Linked DNA regions of Homo sapiens: all the other regions are linked to region 1. The links come from fine-mapping of genetic effects on gene expression. A gene starts in region 1. Each other region holds a variant in brackets. All regions are shown on one strand. Distances are between the middles of the regions. Region 1 holds the start of ELFN2 (extracellular leucine rich repeat and fibronectin type III domain containing 2). Region 2 holds the start of LOC105373024 (a long non-coding RNA gene). Region 3 overlaps ELFN2 (extracellular leucine rich repeat and fibronectin type III domain containing 2).

Region 1 (10,457 bases):
AGGCAGATGTAGGAAATCCACTGGGGAATGAGAAGGGCCAGGAAGGGAGTGAGGCAGGTCGGCTGACCCCACAGCCTCTGTCTCTCCAAGATTCAGGGGCAATTGTAGGGGGAGAAGGATAATAGATGGGCCAAGGAGGGAAACTGAGTCAGGCCTGAGTCTTGGGACTAGGCCCACGGCAGGCTGGTCAGGCAGCCTTGGGATTCATTCCCTACTTCCCCCTGAGAGAGGTGGTGACCAGTGTACACAAACAGTCACAAGAGCTGGCAGCACCCAGGCTCTTTTCATGCATCCTTAGGCGCCCCCAACCCCAGCAGTACCCATGCACTTCAGGCGGTGAAAAGCAGAGGGTGAAAAGGATGGGAAAGAAACAGACACATGCATGCACAGTGCAGACCCCTTCCAGGAAGCCAGGAATGAACGGAGGGGGCAGATGGGAAGGGGGAGGAAAATAATGGCATCTCGCATGCCAGACAGGATGTTATACACGTGGTCTTCTCTTACCTAACCTTTAGCATGACCTTTAAGACAACCCAGAAGGGTTAAGAATTCGTTTTTTTTGTTTTTTGGTTGTTTTATTGTTGCTGTTGTTGTTCTGGCCAGGCACAGTGGCTCACGCCTGCAATCCCAGCACTTTGGGAGGCTAAGGAGGGAGGATCACGAGGTCAGGAGTTCGAGACCAGCCTAACCAACATAGTGAAACCTCGTCTCTACTAAAAATACAAAAATTAGCCGGGTGTGGTGGTGTGTGCCTGTAATCCCAGCTACTGGGGAAGTTTTTTTTGAGACGGAGCCTCACTCTGTCACCCAGGCTGGAGTGCAGTAGCACAATCTCGGCTCACTGCAACCTGGGCCTCCTGGGTTCAAGCGATTCTCCTGCCTCAACCTCCTGAGTAGCTGGGATTACAGGCATGCACCACGATGCCCGAATAATTTTTTGTATTTTTAGTAGAGACAGGGTTTCACCATGTTGGCCAGGCTGGTCTCGAACTCCTGACCTCAGGTGATCCTTCTGCCTCGGCCTCCCAAAGTGCTAGGATTACAGGTGTGAGCCACCACGCCCAACCAAGAATTCGGTACTTTTGTCCCCACTTCATATTGAGGAAACTGGGCCTCGGGGGGGGGGGGGGAAGTGACTTGCCCAGGACCCACACCGAGGAGGAAAAGAGGTTGGATTTGGAGCCCTGCCCCTGCCCTTTCCACAAGCAAGATGGCCAGGTGGGGAGTCCAGGGGGCCACAGCTGAGGCCACGATAGACTCGGGACCTGAAGAAGATACTGATCCTGGGGCAACCTCCCCACTGTCACCCGGGGGAGCCCTCCAAGCGCTGCTGTTCGAGGCACTGTGGGAGGGCCAGGGAGCAAAGGGCTGCCTTTGGGGGTGTCCCATCTCTGTGGGGAATGGGATGGGGGGTTGAGATGCAGGCACCACCCACGAGGCCCCTCCTTTCCTGTCTCTCCTTGCAGCCAAAGCAAAGGGCGTCCGCCACCCCCAGCTTCCCTAGGGCAGGGTCACTGCACCCATTTACAGATAAGCAAAGCAAGGCCCAGAAAGGGCCTTCAGTGAGAGGGGTAGGCCAAGATGTAGAGGCCTCCAGGCCCATCTGGCAAAGGAGTTCAGCAGCCAATGGTGCTGATGTGAGAGTTTCCCTTCGAGGGTTCCAGTCCTGGTTCCATCGCTGTGTGGCCCTGGACTGGTCTGTAACCTCTCTGTTTCTTGTCTTCAAAATGAGGAATAATAATAGTGCCTGCTGCAGCTGGCTTTTGTGGGACTAAACGAATGCCGCCCATAAAGAGCTTCGAACCGGGCCTGGCTCTCAGTAGGGGCTCAATAATATTAGCTGATATCATTATTATTATTATCACTATAGTTATTACTATTTCAATCAGCAGCATCGTGCAGCCAGCACCCTTCCTCTGGCACCCCAGGCATAAGCAAGCCTGCCCAGGTGGCTCTTGAGTCCTCAGGGCTTCTCTGGGGCTTTCCTGGGGACTGTCGGCAGAGCTAGGGGGAAGGAGAGGGGGCTCAATTATTCCAACCCCCAGACACCATCTCCAGTAATAATGTCAATGCCTCTGCCCCAGGTGGTAATTGAGCCAAGAGAAGGTTAATTTAATCAGGGATTGGGCTGGGACGGCAGGAGGCAGAGGACTGGGTAAACCTTCTAGACGATTAACACAGCTCCTGAAGAGGTCTAACTTGCTAAGAAGCGTCAGGTTTCGAGGCAATCCTACTTCTCGGCCATCCACTCCACACAGCACATGTCACAACATGGGGCAGGTGGGGGCACCGAGAGAGGAGCTTGGCCCCCAGGCACTGTGGCCGGAGCAGGTGAGGGTAGCAGCAATGTGTGCCTCCCAGCCCTGCACACGGTTGTCACCCTTTCACACTCACACATCACACCCGCAAGGGAAGCTGCCACCACCCTCTTACAGAGACAGGAGAGGCTGACCTCTGTCACACACAGCCAGGATGCAGATGCGGCAGGGGTGTCACTGGAACCCAATTCTGCTGCCAAAAACAAGCATCCTACAAGACCTCAGGGGATATTGAGGAACAGGCATGGAGCCCCCAGTGACCGCCCTAGACACGCCCCACTGGAGAAGGCTTGCTGAGTGTGCCCGTTCCTATCACGCTGACTGTTTCTGGAGCTTGTGGGTGGAAGAGCAAGAGAGCACTGACCTGGGAGTCAAGAGCAGCCTCTCCTCCAGCCAGAGACTCTTGGCCTTGGGCTCATCACCTGGCACCCCACCACCAATTCCTCATAGCTCCATATCTCTCCAGGAAAGGAAGGTACCCCTCGAGAAGGGGCTGGGTAATCAAATGTGTCTCCCTGTAGCCACTGAGGGCGGCGGGGGGGGGGATGGAATTCACATTAAATCAACAGACAGCTTATTCCAGAACTCAGTTTACTCATCTGTCAAATATCCACATAATAGTGGCTAACTCACCCACCTCAAAGAACTGCCGTGGAAATCCAAGGAAAGAAAAGAAAGTCCTTTGCAAAGTTAGACTTAAACCAAAACAGGAAAGCAGCTACTCTGGGCTAGGGGGATAGGAGGTGAGAGGACAGAGCTCACGTGGACTGAGCCCCCACCATATGCCAGGCATCAGCACCCGCCCCCCACAAGGCCCATGGTCTCCTTAACCCCCTTCACCTCTCTAACCCCTCACCCCATGTTACAGAGGAGAGACTGAGGCTCAGAGAGGCGACGCGAATGCTTAAATCACAAAACACAGAAAGCAGCAAAATGGGATTCGAACCAATGGCCTCACGCTCCCTGGCTATGGCCATTTTCTATTGTCACATGCACTGACACACTCACTCATTAAAGCACATCCACCCAGGGGTGGTGGGCCTGGCTGGGATGAAGAGGAAAACAGGGACTGGGGAGGTCAGATAGGGGGCTGCAGCACATTGGAGGCCTCCAGGCCCACCTGGCAAAGGAGTTCAGCAGCCAATGGTGCTGATGTGAGAACCTCCTTCGGGGGTTCCAGTCCTGGAAGGTGCACTCTTCAGGGGGCAGGACTTAAGGAAAGGGGTCCCATGCCCACTCAGGATGCTGGGAAAGGCGGCCTCTTGGGAGGGACCACGCCACGCGTCCTAAGGCTCCATCCCTCTCCCCTTCCCACCCCTCATATACAAGAGACATAACCACACTCGGCCACACACACTCCCGTGACATCACATTTACACACTCTGGCTGGGGGGAGCAACCTCCGACAAAACTGTCCCAGTGACGTCACCTGCGGCCTGGAGCTTATGTCACACCTGAGGTTCTCACTGACCTCACATACATACTTTTTCCTGATGTCCCCACAATTAACACTCTTTCTTCCTGCCTAGGCGTTGATGGCCCAGAGGTACCCACCTCCCCACCCACACAGTTGCAGGGCCCCCGGCTCATCAGGACAGCACCTGCCTGTGCACCCCTCTCAGGGGACACACATGCCCACATGCTTTGCTGATGGCCCAGACGTGACACGTCCCACAGGTGTCCACGGGCCACGAGAACAGGGGTGTCAGCCATGCACATACACATACACACACACACACACACACACACACACTCCCAGTCCCATCTCATGATGCAACTTGCATATTAAAACGCCTCTCGGTAACCGCGCCGGGCAGTCCGCGCCCCACAGCTTCCACCACATTCCTCCAGGTGCTGCCAGCACCCCACTCCCTCCAGCTTTCTGACTCCGACAGCCTGGCCTGCTGATAGCGACAGCCGCAGCCCAGACACACACACACACTCCAGCCCAACACCTGCGTCTCAGCAAGGGACCAAGGCAGTGCCCTCCAGCCGCAGCTGCTGGGTGGGAGGAGTCCAGGGGGAAGGGGCACAGCACAGAGCCCTGAGCTGCAGAAAGTGCCGAGTACCACGTTCCTCCCCAGCTGAGTGCACGGTCAGCACCACTGTCCCCTTCTCGTCTCCCTCCTTGGGCACGCCTGACACACCATGGCCTGTGGCCTCTGTTTTGGACACAAGCTCCCCGAGTGTGCATGCACACGCGCGCGCGCGCACACACACACACACACATCAGCTCCCTTCCCTCCAAACATTCCGAGGAAATCCTGCCAGGCCACTGACAGTGTGCGTGTGTGCGCTTGTGTGTATACAGACAGAGAGCAGGGTCCACCCCATGTCCACACACACACGCACACACCACACACACACAGCACGCACAATCCTCTCCACATGCACACGGCGCCCCACCAGCCAACACACCCACCCCCTCCCCGTCCCCTGACAGCTGCTGGAGCCCACACACGCACGCACACACACACACTGGCACGCGCTCGCACACACACACAAACACACACACACACACACACCCGGCAGTGGCCCCGGCCCTGCCAGAGCTGCAGTGTCTGCGATTTATGCCGCCTCCCTGGGCTGCCTCCCTCCTTGTCCCTGGCCAGCGCCTCTGAAAGGGTCCCCACCCCCCAATTCTGGTCTTACCAACCCCACCGCCGTCAAGCCCCACCCTGGCCCCCCTTCCCCTAGAAGGCATCCACCCCGTCAACCCCTCTTACCAGCTAGAGGATGAATGCCTTGACCCGGCAGCACCCCGTGAAAGAGAGGGGTTAGGGCCCCCGATTCGAAAAGATGAGGGCAGAGAGGTGCAGTGTGGCACCGGCTGGCACACCGTCCACCATCGAGCCTCTGCACCACCCCCAGAAACGCTCACCTCACCGACCGTCCTCGGTGTCCTCCCACCGCCTCCGCCCACCGCCACCACCACCACCTCCCTCGCGCAGGGTGGTCCCCCGGGGGTCTCACGGGGATCCCCAGACCCAGGAGACACTGGGGGTGGCTCTCCCCGTCTCATCCCCCCTTCCGTGTCCCTCTCCAAGCCCCACCCCCACTGACGGAGGGGGTGCCCTCCGGCTCCAGCCCCGACTCCCACCGTCTCCCCGGTCGGTCGGTCGCGGCGCTCGGATCCAGAGGAATTCACTTACCCCAGCCCCAGCCGGGATCCGGGCCAAGCACCGCCTCCGGGAAGCGGCGGCCGCGGGGCCTGCGCGTGTGAGTGTGAGTGTGAATGTGAGTGTGAGCGCGGGTGTGGGTGCGGGGTGCGTGGCCGTGGGGTGGCCCGCGTGTGTCTGTGTGTGTGTCTGGGAGCGCGCGTGTGCGCGCAGACGCCGCCGCCCCCTCCTCCCCGCCGCCGCGCCTCTGCCCCTGCCTCGGCGGGGAGGGCGCCCGGGAGGGGCCAAGCGGCGCGCGTCAGGGACCGCGGCAGGCTGTGTCCGTCTGTCCGTCCCCGTCTGTCCGTCCGCCAGCCCGCCCGCTCCCGGTGCCCTCCGCAGGCCTTTCCGCAGCAAGCCCGCTCCCGCCCCCGAGCCGGCCGCACGCTCCACGGACACACGCGCGCTCGCAGACACACGCCCGCGGGGCTGGGGCCGCGCCTGGCGCCGCCGCTGCAGCTGCAGCGCCCGGGGAGGCGAAGGCGGCCCCACGGACCCGAGCCCCGGCCTGGCGGACCCCTGTCCCGGCCGCGGCCCCCTGCGCTGCTCACCCCGCGGGATCCGGGTCCGGGTCCGGGTCCGGCCTCCGCCAGCGCATTCAACAGCTGGGGGCAAACTTGCGGCGGGGCCGCCCGAAGTGCGCCTGGACTCGCCCTCCCCCTGGACTCCGCCTCCGCTGATGGGCCCCCTCTCCGCCTTGTACCTCCATGCCCTGCCGCCTGCGCCCTGCTGGTTGGTCCCGCGTTCAACCGCTGGCGACTGGGGAAGTGCGGCTGCTGCGTTCCCATTTTACAGGCCAGACAACTGAGGTTCGGAGAGGAGTGATTCCCCCAAGGTTACACAGGGAGCCTACAGACAGTATTAGACTTTACGCTCCCCTACCTTGTGCCAGGGCACTCACTGCCTTTCCCCACCCCTCCAGGAGTAGGTCCAAGGGATACTGGGCTCATCTGTAGCTAGAGAACCTTCATTAGCCTTCCAGAGGCCCAGTTCCCCGCCCCTTACGCCAAAGCCCCTGCCACCTGCTGCCACCTGCAAAGGGGTGGATGCTGGGAGGAGGAGGAGGAGGTGGAAGATGCAAGAAGCCTGGCACCCGGGGCCTATAACTTGGTGCTTGGGCATGCAAGCACCTCCTCCCGAGGCCCTGCGAGCTGCATGTCGGAGGCCTGCTGCCAGCAGGCCCTGTACTTCTCCATCACTTTTATAGGACCGCATGCACCAGCGCCTGTTCTCAGGTGTTGCACAGCAGATGAAGTCCAGGCTGCGGGAACTCCCCGTCGGGACATCTCATGCAGGTCTGGAATAAGGAGACTCCCCAGAAGAAGCCACTGCCTGAGCTGAATCTTGATGGATGAGTAGGAGTTGGCCAGCTAAAGAAGGAGGAGAAGGGTGTCCTGGACTCTGGGAACAGCATGTGCAAAGAGGCACAGAGGCATGAAACAGCTTTGTATGTGTGTACAGGGAACTCCACGGAGTTGGGTATTAGTAGAGCAGAAAGAACGTCTGTCCAGAAATTCCTCCCTCCTTTCAACTAAGAACAGGGAACGGCCCAGGATGGGGCTGGGAGGGCAGACAAGCACTGGGTCACAGGCCACTTGTTGTCCTGGGGTATGCAGAAGGACTATTGGGCGTTCCCCACCTGCACCCCAGGCTGCCTGGCACACTCCTACCCATCCTTCAAGGTCCCTCGCTGCAAACCCAAACAAGCCATGTGCTGTCTCTGCCCTCTAAACTGAGCCCTCCTACAGGGCAGGGGCGGTATCCAACACATGGTGTGTATCCCTGACAAGGCTGGGCAAGAAGCAGGGTCCCAGCTCCAAGACCTTGCTGGAAGAGCCCCTCAGGCGGAACATAACGGCCTCTGCGCCCTCTGGCGGATCCCTCGAGAAATTAGAGTGCTCCCCAAGCCAACAGCCCCCCTGTGGCTCTCAGGCCCAGACACTTTCTGAGATGGGCACTGGCAGATGCCACCTAATCCGCTCCTGCCCAAGAAACTGAGCAGTGATGACCCCAAAGAATACCAGGGAGTCAGTGGCAAAACAGCCTCTTGCTGCTCTGTTTCCGAGACATTCCCAGTCATCTTCCAGAGTGCAAGTCACAACCCTCTCTGAGCCTGTTTCCTCCTTTGTGAAAGAAATATAGCAAAAGCAGCCAGTACCCCCAGCACAGTGCCGGCCACTCCCTTCTCCCTGGAGACCTCCAGGTCTGGCTGGATTTGGTCAGAATTTGTTTGAAGCTCTAAAACGGTCTAAGAATCTCCCTTTGGAGACTTTGCCCTTACTGGGCAGATGTACATTGACAAGAGTTTCAGCTCTTAGCTGACTTTCTGCCACCATATAGAAGATAGAGTTGGCCTGGCCTGAGGGTCATAGTGGACCACACCATCTAGACACTCGACTGGGCTTTCTCTAGACCATAGTGGAAAGGATACATGTCTGCACTGTCAAAGACAGTAGCCACTAACTGCATGTGGCTATTGAGTGATTGGAATTGTGGCTAATGTGGCTGAGGAACTAAATTTTTAATTTTAATTGTTATTACTTTAAATTTAAATAGCCATAATGTGGCTTGTGGCTGCCATGTGAGATAGTGCAGCTCCAGACATATAGCAAGCTCCTTATTAAAATCAAGCCCAGGCAGACCTAATGCACACACACAAACACACAGACACACACACAGGGAACCCTGAGGACCTGGGAATGCGGGGAGCGGGGAGCTCAGGAGACTGCCTAGAATCCGTAGCTGAATGGTTAAGACCGAGACAAACGTAAGCAATAACATGTCCATTCCCACAGTCACTGCCCCAGACCAGGCTTGCCGTCACCTGGATACCTGCAACAAACTCCCTCACCACCCATCTGTTTAAACCCTCCAGTAGCTCCCCAGAGCCCATGCACAGAGGCAAATATGTTCTCTTTCTCATGACAAGTGATTGGCAGCAGCTGCCTAGAGGTGCTCACCCTTTGCAGAAAATGGCATGATCAATTGGTGATGTCTGCCTCAGGAATAAATACAGAGATGAATGGTAAGCCCTCTCTGCTACAGGATAAAATCCAAACACTATTTATTTATTTATTTTAGAGACAGTGCCTCTCTCTGTCACCCAGGCTGGAGTGCAGTGGTGCAATCTCCACTCACAGTGGTGCAACCTCCGCTCACTGCAACCTCCGCCTCCCAGGTTCAAACTATTGTCCTGCCTCAGCCTCCCAAGTAGCTGGGATTACAGGCACCCACCACCATGCCTGACTAATTTTTGTATTTTTAGTAGAGACGGGGTTTCCCCATTTTGGCCAGACTGGCCTCAAACTCCTGAGCTCAGGTGATCTTCCTGCTTCAGCCTCCCAAAGTGCTGGGATTACAGGCATGAGCCACCGCACCTGACCAAAACTCCAAACTCTTTAACTTGCCTAAATAAGGCCCGTTGCAGTTGGTCCTTATTTATTCCTCCAGCATCTTCAATATCATCCCACATATGTTCTGGGTCCCAGCAACACCAATATCTGCCCTTTCCAGACTCACTTTCTGCCACCATATAGAAGATGGAGTTGGATCTGTCACCCCATCATCTTCACACCTTTGTGCTTTTGATCCTGTTCCCTTGATGTGGGAGGACTTTCCTCCTCTCAGATCCCTTCCCTACCTGTCTACTTTCTACCTATCCTCAGGTACTGCTTGAAAGCCGCCTCCTCAGTGAAGCCTCCCCTGACCACTCCTAAACTGAGCTGGCTGAGCTACTTCCTTCTCCACCGGCTCCCAGAACACTCTGCAAGGCTTCAGTGACAGCACACATCACATCATGTCATTATTCATTCTCTATGTGTCCACCTCCCCCAGCTTATTCTTCACTTGGTCACCTCTATCAAGTAGCAACCATGTGTCAGGGGCTCGCTCAGGGCCAGGCACTGTGCAAGGCCATTTTCACACATTATTCTTATTAATAAGCCACCAATCTAGACGTTAGGAGGTTCTCTTCCGGGCACACAGCATCCACCCCCCCTTCCCACCAGCGCCCTAATTTCTCCTCTCCCCACCACCATGGACAGTCTTGGAGGAATGTGAATCCAGGTACCACTTCCTGCCCTCAGCTGGGCTAATTGCGCTGTGGGTGGAGTGACGCGTGCACAGGAAAATTAACCGGAGCAGAACCATCCTCGAAATGTCAGTGCCAGGTGACATGGGTGGGCTGGGCACCTGCCCTGCATCCCAGAACCCCATCTGCTCGGCCTTCTCCCAGAGGTGCACAGGAGCTGCCCCTGGCTGACAGCTCACCAGAAAGTGCCCTTTATTTTCAAGGTGAACAAGCATGGCCCACATCCAAATGATCCCACTGCCCTGGCCACGTCACTAGAAAGACATTTTTTCCAGAAAGTCGTCCTTTCTTCAAAGCTTAGAGAACAGAGGAGGAAGAGTGAGAGGAACATAGAAATGCTAAAAGCTTCACGCATTGTTTAAGGTGAATAACAAGATTTACCCTTTGTACTTAGGTGAAATTTTCTTCACTTGGTCTCAGTGGCATTTTGAGTTGATGCTAAGAAAATTAGGTTAAAGTGATTCTTTCAGAGAAACACACACACACACACACACACACACACACACCCCAGAGCTTGTGCGGGGTGTCACATTCCTCCTTTGGATCCAGACCTAAAATCACATTTCTGTTGCGCCTCCAGTACTGGAACTGAGGACATCAGCTCGCTGAGGACAGGAGCCAGTGGTGAGACAGAGCCTGGAAGAAAAAGACGGGCCTGGAAGGCAAAGCGTGGTCCTTGCCCACGGTGGAACCCTGCCAAGTGGACTAGGAAGAGATGGGGGCTGAGCTGCCTTCTGGGGAAGGTGGGTCCTCTTATCTAGGAGTGTTTTGTTTTTCTGGTCACTGTGACAGGTCAGGGCATGCAAGGATGAAGGTAGTTGTCAGATGCTGGGGCCTGGGGGAGAATGAGTAGGAGAGAGAAGAGACCACAAGTCGGGAGGAAGGTGACAG
Region 2 (10,457 bases), 99 kb before region 1:
AGCGCTGTCTGGATGTGACATGCCACTTCCGCTCACATTGCATTGGCCAAAACATGTCACATAGCTACCTCACTGCAAGGCCAGATGAAATACCATCCTACCACCGGCCATGCAACATGGGAGGACAGTAATACTTGGGGTGTGGCACTAGTGCCGATTATAGCTAGGGTGACCAATTGTCCCCATTTTCTCAGGACCAAGGAGTTTTCCAAAATGCCGGCCTTCTTGTGCTAAAATTGGGAAAGTCCTGGGCAACCCAGGAGGACTTGTCTGCTCCTATTGTACCACGTTGTGCGGTCTTTACACACTCACTTTTCAAAACTGCACAGCAGCCATCTTTTAGATGAACCAAGGTTTCTCTCCCCAGTCCCCTATTGCTGGAGACTCAGACTGTTTCCAGTATTCCATGTTTATAAATACATTGTCTTAAATACCTCCATGGATAAAACCATGTCTACTTCTCAGTGGCTTCTCAGAGGTGCCATTGGTGGCCGTTTACAGGCTCACAATACCTGTTATCCATAGGTAATTCAAAAAGGTTGAAACAATACAATTTGCCTTCTGCAGCGAAAGCACGTACCTGCTTTCCTTACCTTCTCCTGGAGCCCAGAGCAGTCATTCTCTAATTGTAGCCTCCAGCTCACCTGGAGAGCTCCTTAAAACAGATTGCTGGTCCCTAGCGCCAGAGTTTCTGATCCACGGGGGCTGGGATGAAGCCTAACCTTTGCGTTTTTGTGTGTGTGGTTTGTTTGTGGGTTTTTTTGTTGTTTGTTTGTTTGTTTGTTTTGATGGAGTCTCGCTCTGTTGCCCAGACTGGAGTGCAGTGGTGCAATCTCGGCTCACTGCAAACTCCAGCTCCCGGGTTCAAGCGATTCTCCTGCCTCAGCCTCCTGAATAGCTGGGATTACAGGCGTGTGCCACCACACCTGGCTAAGTTTGTATTTTTAGTAGAGACCGGGTTTCTCCATATAGGTCAGGCTGGTCTTGAACTCCCGACCTCAGGTCATCCACCTGCCTCAGCCTCCCAAAGTGCTGGGATTACAGGCATGAGCCACCGCGCCCGGCCAGATGCCACCACTTTGCCACCGAACAGGTGACCCTGCTCAGCTACTCACCAGAGGTCTAACCTGGAGCAAATTATGCAATTAGCCTCTCTTAGCCTAGGTTCCTATCTGTGAATTGGAGCAGTTGGGAGGATGGACTACCAGGGTAACCATGAGTTCAGTTAAAAATAGTTACAGTTATTCAGCGGTAAATTAAATAACTTTATGTTTTAAAATATTTGTGAGTTTGAATGGAACTGCATTGATTAACATTTGTATTCCTTTCATATCTGAGTGGGAATGGACTTTCTCCCTGTGAGGGTTAAGCATTTGTGTTTCCTTTCTAGTGTGAATCATCGCTCCTGCCCTTTGCCCATTCACCTGCAGGTTTCTCTGCCTTTCCTCTCCGTCTGCCTGGGATCATTACAGAGCAAAGATAAACCCCCATGGCCGTTCTTGATTGCTAGAGATTTTTCCAAAGCTGTTGCTCACCTGTCTGCTGGGGCCATTTTTCTGGCTTACAAAGTGGCCGAATCCATCTGACTTTCCCATTTTTATTTTCTCTATCACTTTTAAGCTTAGATTGGAGCCCTTCTCCAGAATGTGACAATATAAAGGAAATGGATTTTGAATGATGAGATTTCCTGCACCTTGAGGGGTGGTGGGGGTGGGGGATCCTGGCTCAACTCAAACCCTGTGGTGGTGATAGAAGGCATAGTCAGAAACCAAGAGCCCCTCAGCACCAGGACAACCCACCACCCTCAGCTCTCCTCGACATTAGCCACGCTGTCTCTCTCCCCATTTGCAGAGTCCCCCCGCAGAGAGGCACAGGGCAGGCCAGAGCTGGATGCGCGGCTGGAAGGTCAAAGGCATCATCCTCAGGTTGGAGACAGGATGACCGAAGGTGTAAGAACTGGCCAGAGGAGTTGGACAACTCCCAGCTCAGGTCTCTCCTCGACTGCTTTGGCCGTGTGAGCTTTGCCTCTCTGGGTCTCTGTTGTCTCATCCATAAAATGGGCCTGACCATGCCCAAGTCAACGGAAGGATTTAAATAGATCAGCGCCCTGAGGTCGGTGCTGGACGCCGAGTACACGCGCCCAGTACACAGGGCTTGAGCTCATTACACGCCCCAGTTCTGTTCCTGGGGTGGTGGCGTGAACCCCACTGCCTTTGCCTTTAATTGCACTGAAAATATCCAGCACCGCTGATATCAAGGGCCCAGGTCCCGGCGGAAATGAACTCCCAGACTTGGGCGCCCAGGTTTCCGTGCGCGACCCCAGCCCCTCCGGCTGCAGCTCAGCCCATCGGCCCTGCGCGGGAACAGTGTCACCCGGGCACCCGGGCCAGAACAGGCCACGCGTGTCCCAGGAGCGCGGGAAGCTCCCACGCCCCCTCCCCCGCACCGCTCCTTTGGCTGGCAGAGCGGGTCCTCAGCGCGTCTCAGCCGCACCAAGCGCCTCCCGCTCCCGCGCCACCCGGGCGCGCTGCTGGGGCCTGATTTCCATAATAATCAGCCAGAGATCTCCCGAAAAGGCTGGGAGCGGCCGCCGCCGCCCACCGGGGAAGCTCCCGAGGGTGGGCGCCCCCCTTCCCACCCTCCCTGCCGCCGCCGGGAGGGAGCCTCGTTTTTAAAAGCTTTCGAGAAACCGTCCGTGCGCAGGAGGCAGCTGGGAGACACCCAGGATGTCGTTCTCCGCATTAAGGAGGGGGACGGCGGTGGGGGAGGTGGGAGAGGCCGCGGCGCAGGTGTAGACCAGGCTCAGAGGCAAGGAGGGGAGGAGGGAAACTGAGGCAGCCGCGGGGTGGGGAGACGTTTCAAGGTATATTCTCACTGCAGCCTCACGGCGACCCTGCGGGTGAGTTATCTGCTATGCCCCACTTTACAGGTGGGGAAACTGAGGCCTAGAGAGGTTTCCAGTCTTCCAAGCTGGCAAGTGGCTGGGCGGGGACCCTTTTCCGAGTTGGGGGATTCAGATCCCCTGGCCTGCCCGGCACACTGCCTCCTGCCCAAAATGGGCAGCGTAGAAGCAGGATGCTCTGTGCATCCCAAGATGGGAGAACCAACCCGAAAGGGAAAGACCAGGGGGCTGAGGTCCGGCACACACTTGGAGCTGATCTGGTCCAGAAGCCCGTGGGCTCGCAGAACCTAGTTTGAACCCCAGCTCTGCCACCTCCCAACCATCCCCCAAGGGGTGGGCAAACTACAGCCCCTAGGCCAAATCCTGTCAAACTGTTATGGTACAACCAGAAACCAAGCATGTTTTTTTTTCTTTTTTTTCTCTTTTTCTTTTTCTTTCTTTCTTTTTTTTTTTTTTTTTTTTTTTTTTTTTTTAGATGGAGTTTTCGCTCTTGTTGCCCAGGCTGGAGTGCAGTGGTGCGATCTCGGCTCACTGCAGCCCCTCCCTCCTGGGTTCAAACAAGTTTCCTGCCTCAGCCTCCCAAGCAGCTGGGACTACAGGCACGGGCCACCACACCCGGCTAATTTTTTTGTATTTTCAGTACAGATGGGGTTTCACCATATTGGCCAGGCTGGTCTCAACCTCCTGACCTCAGGTGATCCACCCTCCTCGGCCTCCCAAAGTGCTGGGATTACAGACATGAGCCACTGCACCCGGCTAGGTTTTTTCTATTTCTGAAGATAAAAAAAAAAATTCCTGACATGTGAAAATTATATGAAATTTGAATTTCCATGTTCATCCACTTTTTTAATTAAAATACAGCCACACCCACTTATTTCTGGTACTGTCTATGGCTGCTTTCCCTCTACGGTGGCACCGTTGAATAGTTTTGACCAAGAAGCATGGCTCGTAAAGTCAAAAATATTTACTATGTAGCCTTTTCCAGAAAAGCTTTGCCCATCCCTGCAATAATGGGGCAACGATGAAGCCTCTACGCCTCGGTTTTCTCACCTGGACAGATGGGAATGCCATTAAGTGAGGATGAAGTGAAGGCTGGGAAAGCCCTGAGCACAGTTGGCAGCACCCATCTTAGAAATGCCTTTGACCGGCCCGGTGCAGTGGCTCACGCCTGTAATCCCAGCACTCTGGGAGGCCGAGGCAGACGGATCCCCTGAGATCAGGAATCCAAGACCAGCCTGAGCAACATGGAGAAACCCCATCTCTACTAAAAATACAAAATTAGCCAGGAGTGGTGGCGCATGCCTGTAATCCCAGCTACTCGGGAGGCTGAGGCAGGAGAATCGCTTTAACCCAGGAGGCAGAAGTTGCAGTGAGCTGAGATTGTGTCACTGCACTCCAGCCTGGGTAACAGAGTGAGACTCCGTCTAAAAAAAAAAAAAAAAGAAAGAAAGAAAGAAAAAGAAATGCCTTTGACTTTTGCCAAGCCCCTGCTGCTTGCTGCCTCCCCATCCCGAATCACGGCTACCTGGGTGGATGCACTTTGAACTCAAGATATTCATCCCCTGCCCCCATTCATCCTGCTTGTCCTCACTCCAAGCTTATCAACCTGGCCTCCAGCCACCCTCTCCCGTCAGTGACCCAGCCTGACCGGTTCCACCTCCAGCACCCAGCACAATCCCTGCCCCACACTGGTTCTTAGCAAACATTTTCTTTCTCTTTTTTTGAGACGGAGTTTCACTCTTGTTGCCCAGGCTGGGGTGCAATGGCGCAATCTCAGCTTACTGCAACCTCTGCCTCCTGGATTCAAGCAATTCTCCTACCTCAGCCTCCCAAGTAGCTGGGATTACAGGCATGCGCCACCATGCCCGGCTGATTTTGTATTTTTAGTAAAGATAGGGTTTCACCATGTTGGTCAGCCTGGTCTCGAACTCCTAACCTCAGGTGATCTGCCCACCTCGGCCTCCCAAAGTGCTGGGATTACAGGTATGAGCCACCGCACCCGGCCTCAGCAAACATTTTCTAGATGGATGGATGGATGGGTGGATATTTTGCAGTCTTTCTCCATTCCTTCAACTCTAGCCTCCATCATCTCCTTCCAGGTCTCCCTGCTCCCCCCTTCATTTCATCCCCGACTCTGTAGCCAGGGTCACCTGCCTCCTCCCTGGATCCCCAGTGCAGCACAGGTGCTGAGCCACCCCCCTCCACCAAACACCCAAACTGCTAGCACTTCCCTGAGCCCAGCAGGTTGTATCAAGCCTCCAGATGTTTGCCCATTCAGTTTTCTCTGCCTGGAACCTTCTTTATTCCCAGTCCAATGGGCTTTGCATCCTCTACTTGACCCCCAAGACTTAGTTCAGGACCAAAGCCTTTGAAGCCATTCCAGGTCTCTCCCCCTTCTCCCACTGCCCCAGTATACAAACCTATCTC[G/A]GTACCAGTGGGACTTTGGTACCTTTATGAATATGCATGAGTTTCTCCTGGTGAGCCTGTGAGCCTCTTGAGGGCCAGAACTGTGACTAGTATTTCTTTTCTTTTTTCTTTCTTTTTTTTTTTTTTTAAGACAGAGTCTCTCTCTGTTGCCCATGCTGGAGTGCAGTGGCACAATCATGGCTCACTGCAACCTCCACCTCAAGCGATTTTTCTGCCTCAGCCTCCCAAGTAGCTAGGATTACAGGCGCCCACCACCACACGCGGCCAATTTTTGTATTTTTAGTAGAGATGGGGTTTCACCATACTGGCCAGGCTGGTCTTGAATTCCTGACCTCAAGTGATCCACCCACCTCGGCCTCCCAAAGTTCTAGGATTACAGGTGTGAGCCACCGCATCCGGCCTATGACTAGTATTTCTGAATCACCAGTCCCAGCAAAGGCATGCCGCGGAGAAGACAATAAATTTTTAATAAATGAGTCAACGGAGGAAGGAAGGAATTAATATAGCTGGGATCATCTCCCTCCCTGGCTCAACAACTTTCAGATGCTTCCCAGGTTCTCTCTGTCAAGGCCCAGCCTGGTCTTCAAGTCTTGAAGCCCTATATGAAATGGCTCTGGTTCACCCCCGCAACCTTGTCTCAAGCTGCATCTCCCATACAGTCTTCCCGAAGCAGTCCTGGCCTCCAAGCCTCCATTCATGCAGTTCCCCCTCCCTGTTTCTCCTCCTTAGCCTACCCACATTTGTGCCTGTGGGGGCCCTGGCCATCCTTGGAGATCTTACAGGGCTTCAGCAATCCAGGGGCACCTGCAGTAGGGACCAGCTACCCCATTTCCCAAATCCCACAGCAGAAGGCAGTGAGCAGGGGCTTTGACCAGGAGGACCTGGGTCCCAAATGAATCCTGCCAATGTTTACTATGGAGATGTCAATTCGGCTCTTGGAGTAAAGAGGAAGAGTCCCTTTTACTTGTCTCCTGGGGCTGCTGTGAGGTTAGAGATACTGTAACCTCTCTAGCGCACAGTAGGTACTCAATAATGGACAGCTATTTCCAGCCTGTACACAACACTTCTGTCCTTCTGAGAGGAGGCTCAGAGAGCAGACCTACAGCTCCCCGCAACCTGCAGCCCCAACCTCTCTCTCTCTCTCCCTCTTTCTCTCTCTCTCCCTCTCTCTCTCTCTCTCCCTCTCTCTCTTCCCCTCTCTCTCTCTCTCTCCCTCTCTCTCTCTCTCCCTCTCTCTCTCTCTCTCTCTCTCCCTCTCTCTCTCTCCCTCTCTCTCTCTCCCTCTCTCTCTCCCTCTCTCTCTCTCTCCTCCTCTCTCTCTCTCTCTCCCTCTCTCTCTCCCTCTCTCTCTCTCTCTCTCTCTCTCTCTCTCTCCCTCTCTCTCTCTCTCTCTCCCTCTCTCTCTCTCTCTCCCTCTCTCTCTCTCTCTCCCCCTCACCCCCGACAGTGCCTGCAGCCACCGACTGATGCTGGCGTGGACAGAATGACAATGAGGCCAGGACCTAAGCGAGCCCATCTGGGAACCTAAGACTGTGGCAGAGGCTCAGATGAAGCCAGGGCTTGGGAGGGGCTAGACAGGGACGGGGCAGGCAGGCAGGGCAGAGCAGGGATAGGAGCAGGGCAGTGATCTGCCACTGACTGTACAGCTGGGTGTCAGCTTTCCCTTCTGCCCAATGGGTGAATCATTCCCCCTCTCAGGTCTTGTCCTGAGTACCAAGGGCCAAGTGAGAGTTTGGGATGAAGAGGGACAGAGCCAGGCAGGGCAGGAGCCAGGGAGCAGGGCAGCGGCAGGGTGGGACCAGGGGATGGGGTTCACGATGGAGATGGGGCTGGGGCAGGGACCAGTCAGATTTCTGATTCAGAGCAATTCAGATTGCTTGGGCAATCAATCGGACAAAATCACCCCCAGGGCAGGAAAAGAGACAGTGAGAATATTGTTGGAGGGGGTGGTGCGTGCAGGGAAGAAGGAAGAGGGAGAGAAAGAAGAAAGAAGGAATCTGAGAAGAGACCGTGGAGGGGACGGGGAGAAACCATCCCCTGCTGGAGTCCTGGAGGCAGCCCCACTGGTGCCAGCCTTCTCCTTTGGCCGGTGGGACCTCTGTGGCCAGAGGGCCAGGGACTCACCCAGGCCCCAGTGAGGGGGAGGCAGAATGGACAGAATAGGTGGGAAGACGGGCATGGGAAAGGGGTAAAAGGGGAGGTAGGGTGTGGTTGGCACAGGCCTGCATAGCTAACAATCAGAGAGACGGCCGCCCCTCCTTTTCGAGTCCACATCACAGGTGGAGGGGCCAACTCTTGCCACACGGCCAGCTCATTCCACCTCATTGCCTTTGCCCAAGCCAGTGCCCTGCCTGGGGTGCCTTTATTTCCCTACCCTCACCCCAAACATTTAATCCTCCTCCCTAATTCCTCCAACATTCACCCCAGCCCTGATCTCCCTCAGCAATGACTGTCTCACCCTCACCCTCAGAGCTTGGTGTGAGCGGGGTTACAGTCTGGTGGTCCAAGGATGCTTGCTGGTGTCCCATAAATGTGCTTAGTCCTCACAAGCAGCATGGACGAGCATCACAGCCTGGTGGTTAGGCTCACAGGCTTGGGACTCCACTGGGCCAGGTTCTAGTCCCAGCAGCTTCGTTTTCACATAGTAGTTGCTTCATAAATGCTAGGTCCCCTCCTCCTGTTCCATTGCTAGCTCAGAATGTGCACACAGCAGGTGCCCAGTGGTGGCTTCTGGGCTGAGGTGCCCTTCTGTTCCCTAGTGGGCCCCTTGTCCCTGACAGGACACAAAGATGTCACCCCTGCCTTGGCCTCCAGGCCCAAGCCTGAGCAGTGAAGCTTGGGAGAAAGGCCCCATTGCTCATTCCCCTTGAGTCTGCAGCTTGGGCAATCAATCGGTCGCCATGGAAACCAGCCTTCCAATCAGAAGCAGGCACTTCTTGGCTGCGCCAGCGCCACCTACCCACCCACTCAGGCCTGGCTGTGCGGTCCCTCACCTAGGACTGCCAGGGGTTGGGGGCGGGGAGGAGAAAAGGGAAACTGGCATAATTGGGGCACACCTGCTTCTATCCCTAAAGCCCTGAGAGTCTCCAAAGAAAGAGCATTTTCTTGGGGTGGGGGTCACTACTTCAGTGGCCCCCTGATTTTTACAGCATTCATTCCTACAGAGTATGGCCCTTGGTACTCAGAACAAAACCTGAGGGGAGGGAATGATTCACCCATTGGGCAGAAGGGAAAGCTGAGACCCAGCTGTAGGGTCAGTGGCAAAGCTAGGTGCATGCCCCCTCCCTGAGCCCCCATCTCCTTCCCCCTCCTCCCTGGCCTGAGGAATGGGACAGGGAAAGGAGGGGCAGAAGAGTTCCTGGCCCACTGCAGCCAGCACCTGCCTTCCCACTAAATCTACGCCTGGCACTTCCAGGGCCCATTAGCGCCGGGCCCACCAGGGCCCATTAGCCAGCATCTATGGGCCTCTGCACCCACCTGCCCACCCACGCCCAGCTGCAGCCTCCCGCCCAGGCCCCTCCTTCCCCCACTGCCAGCTGGGATTGGACAGAGCCCAGGCTCTGAGTCACACAACCCCACGTTCAACAACTGGCTCCTCGCTGCTGAGACTAAGCAAGCCAGGAAACCTCTCTGAGCCTCAGTTTCTCTGTTTGGAAAATGGAAAGAATTACTCCTGCCTTACAAGGGAGTGATGAGGACTCAGAGTGCATAAAGAGCTTAACACAGGGCCTGGTATGGACTCAGTAAAAGGGAGGCCACCTTCCCCATCCCTGTTCCCTCTCAGTACCCAAAACTGTCCCTTGGAGCTGAGCTAAGGCATCCACCTGCCAGGAGAAGGTAGAAGACAAATTCTACTATTCTTAATAACCAGCCCAGGAAAGCAAATTACAAATAAGATTTAGAGAAGGGCAGCAACTTGCCCCCTACCCCAACACTGGGAGGGATGGGTAGGATTTGAACCCAGGTCTGTCTGACTCAGACCTGAGCTGTCTCTGCTGCAGCCCAGCCTCTCCCGACCCTGACCCAGCCCTGCTCCAGCCAGCCAAAGCCTGTCACCCTGGGCCACTAGTGCCCAGCTCTGCACTGACAGAGCACCTGCTATGAACTTGGCATGCCAGGTGCCCACCACCACATACAGCACCCCCAGCACTTACAGGGCTGCAGAAGGGAAGTCGAAGGGATGTTGAGTCATGCTGGGGGATCTGACCTGGTTGAGGATGCTGGGGAGACTTCTGGAAGGAAGGCGGAGGCTAGACCAGCTCCCAGCCACCACACAGCTGGTGCTGCCGCCTGCTGTTTGAAGCTTTTGCCCTCTCGGCCTAGAAGTCTCCCATTATGGTGCTGTGTCTGCTGGGACCCACGGGGCGCTGCACAGGGAACCATGTGGCCGTGAACCTCAAGTCCAGCCCAGCAGGGGTCAATTGTCTCAGCCCACCCCTCCCTACCCCCAGTATCCTCTCTCCTTTATAGATCATCCATTAAGTGCCAGACACTGCAGAAGGCACATTGACTAATATTAAATATTAGCCCAGCTACCCTGCTGGGCTGTCCTTCTTAGAAATGAGGAAGTGGAGGGTTAAGTGGATTTCTCAAGGTCGTGCAGCTGGTAAATGGCAGAACCAGGATTTGAACTCAGGTGTGCATGACTTCAAAGGAAGACACCACTGAGGCCTCCTCTACTGGGTCTGCCTCCCTACCGCCCCTGGCTCCTTGATGAAGACTCCTGTAGGACAGGATGGAGCAACTTGCTTCCAGCTATTATGAGATTTCTGCTTCTCCCTTCTCTCCTCCAGAAAACAAATTGATTCATCAAATTACACCTTTAATCTGTCCTAGGGAAGGGGAGGAATGGGACTCAGCCCCCACAGCAGGAAGCAGGACGGGTAATCAGCCCACCCGTCCTCCCCAGCTCAGGCACAGCCACCCATGCTCTATCCTCCTGTGATTAAACACTAATTGCCGCTATGCTCTCAAATTGAGTATTTCAATTTCCAGAAACGCAAAGTACATTTCAATCAGTTCCTCTCCCAAACCGTTCCTTCTCAGGAGCCAGGACAAGAACATAAGCCCCCCAAGGCCATAGACAGCTAAGCCTCACTCCTGTACTCCTGCCGTCCCTCTCCCCCGC
Region 3 (10,457 bases), 22 kb before region 1:
CCTGTGCCACCCCTGAGTGCCTGGAGGCACAGCAAGCAAGTTGATCAGACCACGGAGACCACCGGCCCACCTCTCCCACCTCCACCGACCACGGGGACCACCAGCCCACCTCTCCCACCTCCACCGACCACGGGGACCACCGGCCCACCTCTCCCACCTCCACCGACCACGGGGACCACCAGCCCACCTCTCCCACCTCCACCGACCACGGGGACCACCAGCCCACCTCTCCCACCTCCACCGACCACGGGGACCATCAGCCCACCTCTCCCACCCCCACTGAGCCCCCTGCGTCGCACACCTGGGCCACCGGCCTCTGCCCTCACCGGCTGCTGGCTCCCATGAGATTGGAATAGTATCCAAAATCTTCCCAGACTTCACTTCTTCACCTCCCACCTCACTCACTTGCTCCAGCCACCACCTCCCCGCCATGGCCGCCTTGCTCCTCCTGGTAAATGAAAGAAGGAAGGGCTTGCAGAGCTTGACCACGTGCTTCCTCAGCACCCACTGAACCCTCAAACCAGCATCATTCGCAAAGGACAGAGGAGGAAACTGAGGCACAGAGAAGGGAAACAACTGCCCAAAGCCAGGCTGCTGCAGGGTGAGGCCTGCAACCACCCCCTCCCTGCCTCCAAAGGCCAAGCCCTCCACGTCCCCAGCCCATGCAGCAGGTCCCTAGGAAACCGGGAGGGGCAAGGGAGTGCAAGGGAGAAGAATGTAAGGAAAGGCGGGGTTATTATCCTCCCAGGTCAGGGGCCTCAACCACCCTCCACTCCACTCAGAGATGCTGACCCACCCCCTCGTGTCTACCCCCATCCCACCCCACTCCGGTCCAATCAGACTTCACCTTCTGTCCACAGGCCGACTCCCACTGTGGACAGAGAGCTGCCCCCACTGACACGGGCCTGGGGGTAGCAGCAGGGGCAGTTGTCCCCTCCCCTCACCCCCGGAGGCCCACACACCTGTGCCTGAGGAGCACCTCAGCCACCTGGAGGGCCAGGGCTGCCTGGGCAGGGCTGGGGCAAAGGCATTCTGGCATCTTAGGGCCTCCTAGCAGGTGCCTGGTGACCAAACCTGACTACCAAGAATCACAGCCTGGCAGAATTGGAAGAGCTTAAACCTCTTCGCTGTCACCCATTAGACAGATGGGAGCCTGAGGCCTGCAGGGGTGCCAGGACTCCCCAAGGCCCCCTCAGCCTCCCCACCCACCCTCGGTGGGCACGCCTGCTGGGAGCAGCCCCTGAGCCCCTGGAGGGAAGGACATGGCCTCACTCCCCGCCAGGGTCCCAGCACCCGGCCCAGAACAGGAGTTCAAGAGTTTCCTTGAACAAATAAAAGCGTGAGAGAGTCCATGCCGGACACAGGCCCTGCCTTGCCTTCTTGTAGAGGGATCTAAAGGTGGAGATCAAACGAGGGCATTAGCCTGAAAGTGCTTTCAAAACCCATAAATCACTACACACCTGGAAGGGACTTGTAATCCCTAAGTGGCGAAAACGGTCACAGGTTAAGTATTTCATTCAGTCATTCATTTCATACCGATTCTCAAGTCCTGGCTCTGTGCCAAGTCCTGGGGACGGTGCAGGGGACTGGCAATGACCTCAACAGACATGGCACTGCCCTGAGGAAGCCCACGGCTCCAAGGGAGTCAGTCAAACAGGGTACCAGGAATTACAAGCGGAACATGCGGGGGCCGTGGGGCCTAGGCCAGGTGGGGCTGCCTGGTCTTCCAGAGGAAGGGTCACCTAGCTCTCAGGCCTATTGGAGACAAAGGGTCTCCAAAAAGCAGGTCAACTAGCAAAGGGAGCACAGCTCCCCAACCAGCCAGTGTCATCTCAGGTGGGCAGTGTCTAAGACAGGGACACACAGTTGGGCAGTATATATAACACTATCATTGTCCTCATTTTAAAGATGAGGAAACTGAGGCCCAGAGAGCCAAAGCAACATGCCTCAGGTCTCACAGCTCTTAGGCAGCAAAGCTGGTGGTCATGGGGCCTCCTGCACATTCTCAGGTCCCTGAGGAGGCTTGGAACAGTTTCTAGAACATTCAGCCAGTGAACTAAGGGCCAAGCCACTGTGATGGGATTCAGGCCAGCTGCTCCACTCCCAGCAGGGAGGGAGGAGGCCGCAGCCAGGGTAGGCCAATCACACAGTGGGCCCTCAGGAAACACGGCCCCAGCTGGACCTGCAGAAATCACTAGAAACAGCCCAAACAAACCATCCCTGCACAGGAGCTGCCTAATGCGAGCCTGGGGGCCACCGCCCTAGGAGGCGCGTGAGGTTTCCCAGTAACCAAGCCGGCCCGGCAGCCCTCCCTTTAATGCATGCAAACGAGGGGCATAAATTTCTGCTTACTTAACTTCACAAATGTTAACAAGCCCATAAAAAATAAGTTATTCTTCCCCAGCTCCACAACACCCTTCGTTTGTTTAATTTTGCTTCTCCTCTCCCCGCCCCCAGCCTCCTTGGCGACAAGGGAAAAGCTTGTCTTTTCCGTCTTCCATCTTTCCCTGCCTGCGGGGTCTGCCCTTGCCTCAACCTGCCCCAGGGAGGCTGAAGGAAGAAGCCCCAGATAAGGAATCAGAAGGCCCAAGAGTGAGCCCTGCTCCCTCCTCCACAGCTGTGTGACCTTGGGCTCCTGACTTAACCTCTCTGTGGTTTAATTGCCTCATCTATGAAGTAGGAACAGTAGCTGCACCCTGCCTGCTTTGGGGTTCCTGGGAGGATCAGAGGAGATAATCCAAGTAAAGTGCTTAGTTGTCTCTGGCACAGAGCAAACCCTCAATAAATGTTAGCCCATGCTATTATGTAAAGAAGAGTTAAATACCCTCCGGTTAATCCATTTGTAGAGTTTGTCTTCCGGGGCAAGCTGGCAGCTCCAAAGGCAGCCTGTGGTTCGGTTTTGTTGGCAGACTCCGTGTTGACACACATTTGAGTTTTGATGCCATCCAAACTGACCGCTGGAGTTTGCCACAGGCCCACCACACCCTATTGCCCTACACAGACCAGACGTGCGCCTTGCAGTGACCCGGCCCCGGTGAGCGTCTGAGTTTCCCACCCCTAGTTCTTGCCTCTCAAAAGCCTTTCCAACTGGTGATCTCACTAGAGGCATCACTAGGCCCAGCTGACCGATAAGGAAACCGAGGCTCATGAGGGGGGCAGCAACTTGCCCACAGTTCCCAAGGAAGGGGCTGTGGAGCCAAGGTGAGAGTGCAGCCACCAGTCCCAGCCTGTCTTCTCTCCTGAGCCCCTGTGCCACCACGACAGGTTCAGGGAAGCCTCCCTGGCAGCTGGAGGAGCAAATAAATGGCCAGTTACGCAGGTGGCAGGAGAGATGGTGTTCAGCCTCCAGGGGCTCGGTGGGTCCCAGGACCAGGCAGGAGGCTGAGCAGAAGCCAGAGCATGAGCTGGGCCTCGTCCCAGCCAACCCGAGGCATGCCAAGCCAGGGTGGCATTGCTGTGCACCGAGCACAGCACTGGGGACTCTGAAAGATAGGAGACGGGGGTTAGAGGTGGCCTGTTCCCTTCAGGTCTCCTCCACATCCTCCACTTGAGCCCACTTCCAAGAATGGCCCGGGCCAGAGACCATGCCTCACTTGCCCACAACTGCCCCCTCCTGCTGGCATCGAGCAGAAAAAGCCATAGCCGCAGCCTATCCCAGTTACTACCAGCTACATCTTCCCCAACAACATCCCAAGCTGAGGCCACTTTCATTCTTCCCTCTCTCACCAATCGCAAGTCCCCCATGAGGTATCACTCCATGATGCCCCTCCCCCCACCCCCAGGCAGGTGCACCTGTCCATCCATTCATTCTGCAGAACAAAGCTAGGCTCCCAGCACTGCAGGGACTTGCCCAAGGTCCCACCAAGCCCAGAGTGAAACCCAGCTCCTAGACATCCCTACCACCACCTTCCCAATTTAGGAGGAGTCCCCGAGGGCATCCCTAGGGCAGAGGGCAGGGCCAGGCTCCTAAGGGGCGGGGCCATGCAAGGCGAGCGAGGGGCCGGAGGGTGGGGATGGGCCGAGAGAAGACTGGATCCTGGTCTGGGTCCCGGTTGCCTGGGCAACAGGACTAATTAATTCCAACTCCATCTGTGCCTTGGCTGGATGGGCGGTTTGGGCTCCCGGGTGTTTGTTTTGAAGCAAAGGGAGAGAAGCGAGAGGGCCTGGGAGGCTGCGGCCTCGGGGTCTAGCGAGGGGCTGACATTCGCCCCAAATTCACATAGCAGGCCCTCACCCCCACCACAGGAAAAGGCAGAAAAGGCAGGCCAGGCACCCAGAGACCATCCGGGACCTCCTCTCCCCAACGAGGCTCATCATCTCAGCCCAAACGAGGTCTCACACAGCCAGCCATCGGCGGTGCCCGCCGTGTATGCACACGTGTACACGCACCTGCACACGCCGAGGAGACCACAGGCCCCAGAATGAGAGAGCCTTGGGTTTGGCTGCCAGCTTAGCCTTCTGAGTCTCAGCTTCCCTGTCTGTAAAATGGGCAACACCACTCCCCTCAAAGGGCTCTTGGGAGAAAGAGAGGGACGTCCCCAGCACAAGGACACCTGAGGGGCCTCATCTGTCCTGGGGTCCAGGAAGGCTTTGCTGAGGGTGATTCTGGTGAGGGAACCACGTATGTGGTACCCAGAAGGTGGCACTTTTGAGGAACTGGAACAAGGTCAGGAGAACTGAGATCAAGATAAATGGAACATCAGAAGGAGAGGGAGCCCCGAGGCCGAGCCAACTCCTTGCAGATCTCAAGGTTCTGGATCTTGGCCCAAGGGCAGTGGGGAGCCAGTGACATGCTGGGGGGGTGACACCAATGGAAGGGTTTGGAATGCATCGGAGGGGCGGGAATGGCGCCAGCGGCCTGTGAGGAGGCTGCAACGAGACGGGCCTGGAGGGTGACTTGGTGCAGGCAAGGACAGCAGGGTGGGCACATGAA[G/C]GCAGATTTGAGTCAGGCTTAGCGAAGAGAGTCGGGCAGGATGGAGAGAGAGACCAAGGGGGGAGTTCAGGGATGCCACCCAGGGTCTGGGTGGGTGGCTGAGTGAGCGTAGTGCCTGCCCTGGAACAGGGAGCCTCAGAGAATGGGCAAATAGCAGTGCAGGAGGACAGAGGCAGAGCCCGGGTGGGGCCAGTTGAGCTTTAGGGGTCAGAGGAACACCCCAAAGGAGTGACCAGTCAGCAGGTGGCCACACGCAATGTCCTACAGCCAGAGGCAGGTGACAGTGGAGGATGGAGACTCAGGCATCCCTTGCACACAGCTGTTAAGATGCTGGCCCGACAGCAGCGGCTGACACCCAGGCTGGGAGGGTCAGCGCTCAGGGACAGGTGCAGCAGCTGGGAGTGGATGCTGGTGCTCAGGAGCCTGCCACATCTGCCTGTGTTCAAAGCCCGAACCCAACACCTCACCAGCTATGGGATCCTTGGCAAGTCACTTCACCTCTCTGAGCCTCAACTTCCCCATCTGTAAAATGAGAATAAAAGCAATACCTACCACATAGGTTGTTGTGAGGAGGGCCATCCCCCCAGATCCTTAGCTGAGCCCCAGAGACACAGGAGTTCCAGCTACCTGCTGGTGATCAAGAAGGAAGGACTGGGCCTCAGGCCCTGGGCTGAATCCTGGGTCCCCTACTTACCAACTGTGGAACCAGGGCAAGGCCCCTCACCTCCCTGAACCTCAGCATTTTTTTTTTTTTTTTTTTTTTGAGACGGAGTCTCGCTCTTGCCCAGGCTGGAGTGCAATGGCGTGATCTCGGCTTACTGCAACCTCCGCCTCCCGGGTTCAAGCGATTCTTGTGCCTCAGCCTCCTGAGTAGCTGGGATTATAGGTGCATTCCACCACACCCAGCTAATTTTTGTATTTTTAGTAGAGAGGGGGTTTCGCCATGTTGGCCAGGCTGGTTTTGAACCTCTGACGTCAGGTGATCCACCCACCTCGGCCTCCCAAAGTGCTGGGATTACAGGCATGAGCCACCATGCCTGGCCACCTCAGCTTCTTAAAATGTAAAATGGGGATAGTGAAGGTATCAACCCCATGGCTCATGGGGTCACTGTAAACATGAAATAAGAAAACATGTCAGGCATGGGTCACCTGCCTGGGACATAGCAAGCACTAAATAATTCATCACTGCTGTCATTACAGTTATTGTCACTGCTCCTCCCAGTGACCCAAGAAGGGGGATGTGCTGATGCCCGAATAAGAAACAAGAAAGACAAAGGCCTCAACCTAGCATCCAGGACCTGAACTGACCACCACGTGATCGCAGGATCCCCTTTCCCTGCCCAAATAGCCCCCTTAGCCTGAGACAGGGCTGCATGAGACTACCTGGATCTGAACCCTTTCCTGGCCTCTCCGAACTGTGTGACCTTGGACAAGTCATCTCACTTCTCTGAGCCCCAGGTTCCTCCCTTTAGGAAAAAAAAAAAGGGTGGAGGGGGGGTGGTCCTGGGCAGGCACAATGGCTCGCGCTTGTCATCTGAGCACCTTGGGAGGCCAAGGCAGGAGGATCACTTGAGCCCAGGAGTTTGAGACTAGCCTGGGCAACATAGTAAGACCCTGTCTCCACAAAAAAGTTTTTTAAAAACTTAGCTGGGCATAGTGAGACGCACCTGTAGCCCCAGCTACTCTGGAGGCTGAGATGGGAGGATCGCTTGAGCCTAGGAGGTTGAGGCTGCAATGAGCCACGATTGCACCACTGCACTCCAGCCTGGGCAACAGGGTGAGACCCTGTCTCAAAAAATAAAATAATAAAACAAATGAAAAATAAAAAACAAGGGTCCCCTATCTGTACCATTGTCCCGAGGGCTGAACGAGGTGATACGTGAAAGTTGTCCAGTCCAGTGATGGCACACAGCAGGTGCTCAACAAGTGACAGCAGTTACGATCGGTGATTGGATATGAAGACCTGGACACGGGGACGAATGACTGCATACAAGCACTCACAACGGAGTGCCGGGGTGTGGTGCCTGTCAGCTCAATCACACCCCAGAGGGCTGCACATCTCGGGATTCACCCCCAGGTGACCCTCCCTGGCGCTCCCCCATCAGGGAAAGGGCAGAGAGCAAAGGGACCCCCAGACAGTGCCTCCCATCCATGCCACCCCCCACTCCCACCGCCCCTGCAGCAAGCACACAGCCACGCGTGTGCCGCCCCAGCCCCGTGACCCACTAGCAGCCCCTCCCGTCCCCCGCTCTGCATCTGCTCAATTAGGGAAACTGGGGAGCGAGGGAAACAAAGACTTAATTTCTGAGCTAATCAGCCTGCCTCATACTAATTACCATCCTCCCGGGCATTAGGGCAGACTTCCTGGGGGAGGCTGAGGGGGAAGCTGGTCCCTGGGAATGACACCCCTTTCCCCTAAAGCCTGAGAGCCCAGCAATGGGAGGGTGGTGGTGCAGGGGGACAGGGAGGCTTGGGCAGGTGGAATTTCAGGGTGGGATGAAGGAGACGTGGTCAGAAGCAGGAGACAGAGTCCACTGGGCAAAGCAGGCAATGCACCCGTGGTCACCTGGACAGCCCCACCTTCCCAAGGTTCCCGCCCCATCCTCCAGGCAGCCACAGGCTTGGGAGAGGCCCAGAACAGGTGCCCCAGTAGGCATGCAGCCCATGGCCTTGGCCAAGAGGACAGATGGACAATTTGAAGCTGGATAATTGAGCAATGATCAGAGGGAAGTTTCTGGATCATGGCCTACTGGGTGTGTGCATTTGTGTGTGCTTGTGTGTGTGCGTGTGTGTGTGTGTCGTATGTGTACATGAGCACACCAGAACAAGAGGGCTCGGGACTGGGAGCCAGGAAGCCTGCGTTCAATTACCTGCTCAGGCTCTGGGAAAGTCCTTGCCCCTCTGAAATTCAGGCTATACCACAAGCGAGCTGGAGGGCACGATTTTTGGAAATCATTTCAGACGTGACCACAGGGCCACTTATTCTTCAACAAATGCTTGTTGAACACCTACTATCATGCAGCCGGCTCTGTGCTGGCACCACAGGCACATTCGTGAACAAGACAGACAAGGTCCCCAGCCTCACAGTGCTTTCACTGTGATGGGGGAGCCAGGGAGTCAACACGAAAATCAAGAAACAAGTGCCTTGGCTTTGGCAGATAGAGGAACGTGCTCTGTAGAGAGTCCACCCATAGGATGTGGACAAGCGATGGGGCCACCACAGGTAGGGCTTATGGCAGCATTTTTTAGAAAACGCCCCACCCGGCGGCCAGGCGCAGTGGCTCATGCCTGTAATCCCAATACTTTGGGAGGCTGAGGTGGGCGGATCACGAGGTCAGGAGATTGAGACCATCCTGGCTAACATGGTGAAACCCCATCTCTACTAAAAAAAAAAAATTAGCTGGGCATGGTGGCAAGCGCCTGTAGTCCCAGCTACTCGGGAGGCTGAGGCAGGAAAATGGCATGAATCCGGGAGGCGGAGCTTGCAGTAAGCCGAGATCGCGCCACTACACTCCAGCCTGGGGGACAGAGCAAGACTCCGTCTCAAAAAAAAAAAGAAAGCGAGAAAAGGCCCCACCCAGCAATTAAACTGCAGATAATCCCAACTCATGGAGGACCTCAGAGCAACCCCTCTCCCTTCTCTGGACCTCTGTTTCATGCACACAGCGCGGGAGCTGGATGAGATGCTGTCCAAGGCTGATTCAGTCCCACAAGCAGGAGTTCTCACGAGTTTCTCCAGGCCGGGTGTGTGCATGAGAATGTCTGCATGATCCCCCCAGGGGCTGCGGTCTAGCCCACACATTTATACATACACAGACAGATGACCACCATGTCCCCAGTCCTGGGCCCGGCTGCACAATGGATGTACCAGATAGACAGGTATGTGCCTGATGATGAGAGGGGTGGGGCATCACATACCCCAGGGCCCATCAGCTCCCAATCACGGGATCTGCGGCCCGCACTCCAGGGGATACACTCAGCTCTGCTGGCACAGGCGTCCCTTGAACTGCCTCCCTCCCACCTGGTCATGGGGCCTTGGCAGCGGCCCACCATGTGCTGAGCGCCTGAGCCTCACTGCACGGAATTCTCACAACAGCCCTGCCAAGGAAGTGCTGTTAACCCTGTTTTACAGATGGGGAAATTGAGGCTCCGCTAGGTGAAGTCACTTGCTCAGTAAATAATCAGCTAGGCACTCAAATCGGGCCTGATCCCAAACTGCCACCCCTACCATATGCCAGGACCTTCTTCCTGGACCACTCTCAAGGCTCAAACCAGGGCACCCGCCTGAACCAGCTCTGCCCAATAACTGGCCTTCCAGGGATTGCCAAGGGCGCCCAACACAGCAAGGCAGTCAGGTTCAGATGGCCAGTTTCAAATCCTGATTTCATCACCGAGTCGCTGTGTGGCTGTGGGTAGGATCTTTAACCTCTCTGTTCCTCAGTTTCCCCACCTGTCAAGTAGGGATGGTGACAGTATCTATTTTGCTGGGTTGTTGTGAGGATTTTGCTAAGTTCTATAAAGTTCTTAGAGCAGTGCCTGGCACATGGTGTGTTGATATAAGGAAGATATGATTCCCTTTGACTCTGTGAATGGCCTGACACTTGGGTTCCACAGAAGGCAAGAGACAGAGCTGCAATTCGAACGCTGGACTCAGGACTCCCTGTCCAGGGCTCTCTCCCTACAGCATCAAGGAATCTCCAGCTTGGCCAAGGGAACAAAAAAGTCCCAGGACTGGCCCAGGCTCAGCCCCAAGGCGGAAAGACAGCCTGTGAGGAAGACTAAAGGGATGAGAGCCACAGGCCAGGGACCAGGCCCCAGACCCTGCTCCATCACCTGCACCTCCCTCCTCTGTGCCTGGCACTCGCCTACCCGGCCCCACCCCCAGCTCCGGAAGGCCCGGGCACTCCTGTGGGCACTCAAGGACCCTGGGAAGCTCCTGGGCCCCGAAGCAGCTCCCTGTGGCCCCAAGGAGCCCAGTGCCCAGTGATCCTGGGATGCAGCAGGTGGAGAACAGCAGGGAACAGCGTGGTCTCCCGGCACCACCTTCCAAGTCCCTGGGTACTCTGTCCCCAGAGACAGCCAGGGGTCCTGGCCCTGGACCCCCACACCCTACCTTTCCCCAAGTCCCAGGGAGCCCGCAGGCAGGAATCCCAGCCAGAATGGGCTCCTGCCTAAAGTGCTCAGCCAACAGCGAGAGGAGCCCAGATGTCCACACTTAGCCTTGGAAGCAGATCCCCTCAAACCAGCCCACCCGTGCCCCAGGGCAGCGTGCCGGGTCAGAGGAGCTTGATTCTGCAGTCAGACACTTCAGATCTGAAGTGGGTGAAAGTAGAAAAAGTGCAAACAGCCCAGGCACTCACAACAGGGAAATGTCCTTTCAAGAAAAGCCCATTCCAAAGTGGATTAGGACCCAGGTCCCGCCGCACCCCTGAGAAGGGTGCTCAGGGTGCAATCAGGGGCCGCAGGAGGGTGCAGGGCCAGCTGCGAGGAGAATCCCTCCTGGGTAAGAACAGATGGTGTACGT

Evidence for each region.
Region 2: its variant is fine-mapped to the expression of ELFN2 in fibroblasts (GTEx, PIP above 0.99).
Region 3: its variant is fine-mapped to the expression of ELFN2 in whole blood (TOPMed, PIP above 0.99).

Annotation. Positions count from the first base shown.
Region 1 is chr22:37,421,828-37,432,284 of GRCh38, forward strand. It overlaps ELFN2 (extracellular leucine rich repeat and fibronectin type III domain containing 2), which reads right to left and starts at 5,652. Exons shown (of 3, transcript NM_052906.5): 1 at 5,471-5,652.
Region 2 is chr22:37,322,410-37,332,866 of GRCh38, forward strand. LOC105373024 (a long non-coding RNA gene) reads right to left here and starts at 9,727. Exons shown (of 4, transcript XR_938232.3): 1 at 9,484-9,727. RefSeq lists enhancers at 4,908-6,107, 6,555-7,200 and a silencer at 8,099-8,393. The variant G/A (reference allele first, on the strand shown) is at 5,330.
Region 3 is chr22:37,399,417-37,409,873 of GRCh38, forward strand. All of the region lies in intron 2 of ELFN2 (extracellular leucine rich repeat and fibronectin type III domain containing 2), which reads right to left. Among named protein-coding and RNA genes, the nearest start is that of ELFN2, 23 kb to the right of the region's middle. RefSeq lists an enhancer at 3,159-3,907. The variant G/C (reference allele first, on the strand shown) is at 4,934.